Regions from separate parts of the Homo sapiens genome. Here region 2 is reported to be linked to region 1. Evidence: microRNA targets listed by miRTarBase, many of them from high-throughput screens and not tested one by one. Region 1 holds a microRNA gene; the other region holds the end of a gene's coding sequence.
Evidence for each region. The annotated mature microRNA hsa-miR-1271-3p reads AGUGCCUGCUAUGUGCCAGGCA and lies in region 1 at 1,759-1,780, opposite strand. An mRNA with a match to its seed (bases 2 to 7 or 8) in the 3' UTR can be bound and repressed. Matches are read on the target gene's strand: a 7mer-m8 pairs with bases 2 to 8, a 7mer-A1 pairs with bases 2 to 7 and ends in A, and an 8mer does both.

Region 2: the mRNA of NT5C2 is a reported target of hsa-miR-1271-3p. Seed matches in the 3' UTR shown: 7mer-m8 at 2,067-2,073.

Annotation. Positions count from the first base shown.
Region 1 is chr5:176,366,369-176,369,775 of GRCh38, reverse strand. It overlaps MIR1271 (microRNA 1271), which reads right to left and starts at 1,830; the gene lies at 1,745-1,830. It overlaps ARL10 (ARF like GTPase 10), which reads right to left. Exons shown (of 4, transcript NM_173664.6): 2 at 3,195-3,396; 3 at 794-969.
Region 2 is chr10:103,086,611-103,090,017 of GRCh38, forward strand. NT5C2 (5'-nucleotidase, cytosolic II) reads right to left here. Exons shown (of 19, transcript NM_001351169.2): 19 at 1,428-3,298. The coding sequence ends at 3,062. CNNM2 (cyclin and CBS domain divalent metal cation transport mediator 2) reads left to right here. Exons shown (of 8, transcript NM_017649.5): 8 at 1-3,407. Among named protein-coding and RNA genes, the nearest start is that of NT5C2, 100 kb to the right of the region's middle.

The sequences.
Region 1 (3,407 bases):
CCATGTTGCCCAGGCTGGTCTCGAACTCCTGGAATCAAATGATCCACCTTCCTTGGCCTCTCAAAGTGTTGGAGGTAGAGGTTTGAGCCACCACGCCTGGACCAATTCTATTACTCTCAAGATGTACAACCTTGGAAAGATTATAAGACTAGCCTGTCCCATCTATAAAATGGGAATAGCATCCCATACTTTATAGGGTCAACAGAAGCATAAGAAGAAATGTTATTCAAAACCACACCTGGGGGCCAGACACAGTGACTCATGCCTATAATTCCAGCACTTTGGGAAGCTGAGGCGGGCGGATCACTTGAGGTCAGGAGTTCAAGACCAGCCTGGCCAACATGGCAAAACTCCACCTCTACTAAAAATACAAAAATTGGCTGGGTGTGGTGGCACATACCTGTAATCCCAGCTACTCGGAAGGCTGAGGCACAAGAATTGCTTGAACCCGGGAGGTGGAGGTTGCAGTGAGCCGAGATCACACCACTGCATTCCAGCCTGGGCGACAGAACAAGACTCTGTCTCAAAAAAAAAACAAAAACAAAACACCATGCCTGGCATATAGGAGGCACTTAATAATTATTTTTCTCATCTCTCCAGAGTACGAGATGATAGGGAGGCAAAGAGGAAGGAAGACAGAGGCAGGGATCAGGACAGGGCATAGGTAGAAGAGGTGGGGGCAGCATCTCAGCCACCCTCTCCAGGCCATGGGCCCAGGCAGCGCTCCTTGCCCCTGCCCAAGCATCTCTGAGTGGATGTCACCTGGACCGAGCTGCCCTCTCACAGCCCTCACCTGCTTGTTGGCCACCACGACGACAGGCAGGTCAGGGTCCTTGTCCAGCAGCTTGTGCAGCTCCTGTCGGGCCCAGGGCAGCCGCAGTCGGTCAGCCGAGTCCACCACAAACACCAGCACATCCACCTCGCTCACAAACTCCTTCCAGTAGAAGCGCAGGTTCTGGCTGCCCCCAACTGAGGAGAGGCCAGGGGCCAGCTCAGAGCCTCCCGGGCCCCCGCTCACTGCCCACAGCCCCCACCCCACCCCGGGCCCCCGCTCACTGCCCACAGCCCCCACCCCACCCCGGGCCCCCGCTCACTGCCCACAGCCCCCACCCCACCCTGCTTCTAGCTTAGTGAGCTTCCACCAGCCGGGGGCAAGGAAAAGACCGCAGTTTCCGCAGCTACTCAGACTGGATTTAGCTCTAGCTCTGATAGGCGGGTCTCTTGGGGCAAGTCCCTAGCTTTAAGCACCAGTCTCCTCACTGAACTTTCCTAACGGGTTGTTGCAGTAAAACCCACAGGTACCACGTGCGATGTACCTTTCACGGGACTGACACACAGGTGCTCAGTAAATGGAAGTCTTCAGTTCTCTCCCCTGGGTTGTCTGGCTTTGCCTCTTGCTAATTCCTAGCTTTCTCCTACAGGTTCAAAACTGTCAGTGATGGCTGTGACAGGAGCCAGGAGTCCTATTGTCTAGAAAACTCAGGACCCCCTGCCCTGCCTATACACAGCCATTCTCCATTCAGTTTCCCCCATCCCCTTCTTTTCCCTTGGAAATGTCATATTTCATCCTATGAACACATGGTTGCCAACACAGTCCCCCAGCCTGGATCACCTTTCTTTTCCTCTCTGCTCCTCTGCACAGTCCCATTGGTCACCCCGCACCCTAGTGTTTCTGGCTATGTTTCTGACACTTGAGGATTCTAAGCTGTGAGAGTCAGAGGCACTTACCTCTGAATCCCCACAAAGCCCTCAGCACAATGCCTGGCACATAGCAGGCACTCAACAAATATTTACTGAGTGCTTGCTAGGTGCCAAGCACTGATCTGGGTGCTGCAGATACAGAGGTGAGCAAGGCAAGCAGGGGCCCTGCACCAAGGAGCTCCCTCCCTAACTGGGAAGGACATGGCAATGACATCAACACATTTCAAAAAGGAAAGAAATAAAACAGAAAAAAGGGAAAGTGGCTGAGGTGGAACAGGGGTTGGCCCTGGATTGGGTGGTCTGGGTAGGTCTCATCAAGGAAGTGGCATGTGAGCTGAGTGGGATGATGAGAAGGAGCCAGCCATGGGAAGAGGCAGAGGAAAGCATTCCAGACAGAGGGGAGAGCATGCTGGAAGTGTCTGGGAAACAGAAAGAAGGCTGGGGTGCTGAGGCACTGCAAGAAGGAGAAAGAGATGGCTGTGAGGCTGGCTGGGGCGGGCCACATGGGGCCAAAGACCACAGTGAGGGGGTGGGGAGCCCCCCAAGGGCTTTAAGCAAGAGTGACATTACCTGACATGGGTTTTCTCTAGCTGACACTAGGGACAGAAGGGGAAGCAGGAAGACCAAAGAGGAGGCTGTGGTGCTGAGAGGAAAGATGACACTAGTTTGGGCCAGACAGGCAATAGTGGAGGAGGGTGTGCCACTGCCCACTGCCATTCCAGCCTGGGCGACAGAGACCCTGTCTCCAAAAAAAAAAAACTAGAATGGTGGGGTGCGATGGCTTACGCCTGTAATCCCAGCACTTTGGGAGGTCGAAGCGGGCAGATCACTTGAGGTCAGGAGTTCAAGACTAGCCTGACCAATGTGGTGAAACCCCCGTCTCTACTAAAAATACAAAAATTAGCCGGGCGTGGTGGCGGGCGCCTGTAATCCCAGCTGCTCAGGAGGCTGAAGCTGGAGAATCGCTTGAACCCGGGAGGAGGAGGTTGCAGTGAGCCGAGACAGCGCCATTGCACTCCAGCCTGGGTGTCACAGTGAGACTCCATCTCAAAAAAAAAAAAAAAAAAAAAAAGACTAGAAAGGTGGGTGACCTTGGATTCATGATACTACTGCTGGAACTCATTTTCCTCTGGAGATAACGAGGGTAGTGACCGATTCTAGTTTTATGTAATTGTTTAGGGGAGTTTTCTTAAGCAATGCCCGTCAAGTGCTTGGCATATGAACCCTTAGCTGTTAGTATCTCTGTGTTAGGCCTATCGACTTTGGTAGGGGTGATGGGGCAGGCGGTGCAGCTGGAGAGGCCCGATCACGAAGGGCCCTAAATGTCAGAGCACAGAGCGTGGGCTGAATCCTGTGCCCCGGAGAGCGGTGGGAAGGATTCGTAGAGGGGAATGTGCTGCTTAGACATGCATTTTGGAAGCCCCCTTCCCTGCAGAGAATCCAGGACTGGTCCAGTAGAGGAGACGGGGAGATGGGGTAGGGTGTCCGCTCACTTTCTAGCAGGTCCACCTCAAAGTCCTTGGTGGGCAGACGCACGGAGTTGAAGCCCCAGGTGGGGATGTGGCCTTCCAGCGGTGGCTTCCCCGACAACACGCGCAGGAACGTGCTCTTGCCTGCGCCATCCAGCCCCAGCACCAGCACCTCGCGCTGTTCCAGCTCCTCCAGCGCCGGCTCCTCGTCCTCCTCGTCCTCGGGCTGCGGGGAAG
Region 2 (3,407 bases), not on the chromosome of region 1:
TACTTCTAAATCTGACATGCAACTGCATGTGGCTTTTTAAAGTGGTTTCTTAACAATGCTAATGTGACTTAAGGATTTGTAGTTCTATTAAAAACGACTTCTAAAAGTATCTTAGGGTAGCTTGAAGGGTTTGCGTTATTATTTTAGGTCTCAGCAGAGGTATGCTTATGGCAAGAGAAAAATCTTAGGTCTAAATAGAACCCTAAACTTTCTTGGCTGTGACCAACTTTTCTGAAGTACACCATCAGAGTTTTCACTGACTATCTATCTTTGCAGAGATGAATGAATGTACTGGGCAATTCCTCTGCCCAAGGAAACCCAGCAGGGCCTGGGTCTGCTGTACCACTGACCAACTGCTGGGGAGGCTAGGGGACCTGTCAGTACATGCTGTAAGGTTGGGAGTTCAGTCTAGCAACCAAGAAGGGGTTGCCTGGTGTTCTACAATGCCTATAGTGTTTTCAAAATGCCTGGGAAAAAATTCTCAAAAGAAGTGGCAGAATGGTCTTCTCACGGTATAAAACTCCGCAGGATTTTTTTTTTTTTTTTTTTTTTTTTTTTTTTTAAGGAAAAAAGTATACCTTTTAAGTTCAGCTTCCTTAACTACTGGCAACAGAGAGAAAACTCATAATTTGTTTTAAAAAGCCCAGTTACAGCTGCCCTGCCTACCCATGGACCATTGACTTCCCAGCACACTCTTAAGAATAATATACAGAGAGGCACCATTTTGCTCTGGGTCTTATGGAATCCTAGAGCTCTTGAATACGTTTTGGTGGTCCTACGGAGAGCTGTAACTAGCAGTGGAGTTGTTGCTTATTCCAGCTGTGTGCTTTTCACTTTCCGATCTTTGGACCCAGAGAATCATTTGCCATGGAATCATCTGGCTAGTAAGACACTCTTATATGGATGCAATACAAAAAGTGGTAAATTAAAGCAAAGCAATCATGTGGTCCTTACTCTAAAAGAGACAATATGTAAATGTACTATTATAATAAGGTAGCTCTGCAGATGTAATAAGCTACTCATAAATTATTTGGGTTTAAGAAAACTTAAGACTATGTTAAACTGGACAACATCTCCATCTTGAGTGAGAGTAATTAGTAACTAGGATGACCACACATTCTCCTAACACGGGCAACAGTCTAGTCTAATTGTTATTGCATTTCTGACCTGATTCTTTTAAAGGGGCATATATTCCCAATATATACCATTTAGAATGTATGTATGTTTCTTGGATGACTTAATCTGAAGCCATATAAGTCCAAAGTAGTGAGACAGACAGTATATCCTTGACTAAGTTATCAGGCTGTGTTCTCTGCTTATAAAATAATTTTTTAAAAAGCCTCACTTCACAGTCCTGTTCCAAAAATCTTTCTGTGAAAAAATTGAGGCCTATGTAACACCATGAATATAATCATGTTAGAACATAATCAGTTCTTGAATATTTATTTCCTTTAAGAGAATATCAAACTGATGTCACCAAATCTAAACCCACTTGAAGACCAATAGCTATTACAGTTGTACTACAGAATAGGTCAAAGTCACCGTTAGAAATATTACACTTTATTGAATTCTGGAGCAGCTAATCTACCCTCCCCTATTGACCAATGACAAGAATGGAAGAAAATATACAATGGTTAAAGAAAGAGTCTATAACCACTGTTTGTTTAAAATGTTGAAACAACTTTCACTGTACTGGTGAAACAGTTTTAATACCCTAACATACACAGTAATGATTCATTCTTGTTTAAAACAAGAGGTGATTTCGACTTGGGATTGGGATTTTTATTTTTTGAGATGGAGTTTTGTTCTTGTTGCCCAGGCTGGAGTGCAATGGCACAATCCTGGCTCACTGCAACCTCCGCCTCCTGGGTTCAAGCAATTCTCCTGCCTCAGCCTCCTGAGTAGATGATGGGATTACAGGCATGCACCACCACGCCCAGGTAATTTTGTATTTTTAGTAGAGATGGGGTTTCTCCATGTTGGTAAGGCTGGTCTCGAACTCCCGACCTCAGGTGATCCGCCTGTCTCGGCCTCCCAAAGTGCTGGGATTACAGGCGTGAGCCGCCGTGCCTGGCCTTGACTTGAGATTCTGAAGTGAATTTATTCACACTGATTGTGCCCTCTACTTTAGTAAGGTTCTGGCTTACAGAGCCCTCTTCCCATCCTCTGATGTTCAATTTTAATATACAGCAATCAACTCTTAGAGGACAAAGAAATCTGGAATTGGGTAGCATGAGCCACAGCTATATAGCCCACACTAATGCATGTTCTGTAGTATAAGAAGGCAGTTCTTCCCTTTCTTTTCTGGGGGCTTGTTCCTTTGTCCACTTGCAGCTAAATTCTTTCTATAGATTTATCACAGATAAGAAGGAGGTTGTTTTTGGATAACAAATAAGCATTTGTGCTATTAAACAAACAAAAGGTAATAAGGATACTGTCTTTTCCCTCAAAATAGAATCCTGCCCTAAAGCAACGCAAGTAGAGCATACTTCTGTGCAAAGCCAGTGATAGAGAAGCAGCCTTGCCAGAGTCACTGAGGATGAATTAAAGGCTTATAAAAGAAAACTTGACCTTAACAGAGACTACATTTGATCATGGAAATAATACATTTCTCCACTGATATACAATACCATGTAATGCACTGGAAAAGTTGGACCTTGGAGTAATAGCACAATTTGTAACATTACAGATCACCTCTTCCCACTCTTTGTTCCACTCTGAGACTCTTTCCTTTTCCTCGTGTATCCAGATACACTGACATACGGATGATTTTAAAAGTGTCACAAGCCACAGTGGAGCCATATACATGCAGTTCAGCCTGATTTTACCCTTATTTTCTTCTAATACAGACTCCATTACAATTTTGGACCATCTGCAGAGAGTACAGATACACAAAACCAAAACAAGTATCTATGATAATAAAATCTTCAGAAACTTTTCAGACGTACCTTTCATGGAGCCCCCTCCCTCCCCCGAGTAGAACCCTAACAGGGACCTCGTTTGTTCCTGTGAGTCCTGCCAGGACTTGTTTAATGGGTGCTTGGGGTTTTGGTTTTCCTCCTTATTCTTCCTCCTCCTCCTCCTCTTCATCATCATCTTCGTCATGGCAGTGTGTAATTTCCTGGGGGGCCAGTGGGAAGAGGTTGGGAGGTTTAATCTCACTAATTGACCGTGTCAGCTGGTGCCGCTTGTAGTCAGTGTCTTTGAAATCCACTGATGTGCGGTTCCGGGTGGCAAGAGGAGACTCCATCTCATTGATATCTACGTGTGTGTGCTCCACCGTTGATTCATGAGGCATCTAGACAGAAAAAAGCTAGAGGCTCAGAAAGCAGGCAGAGCAAAGTAGCTACTCCCCAAATCCTAACCCCTCTCCTCTGTTAGGTGGCCATGCAATTACATCTATAATG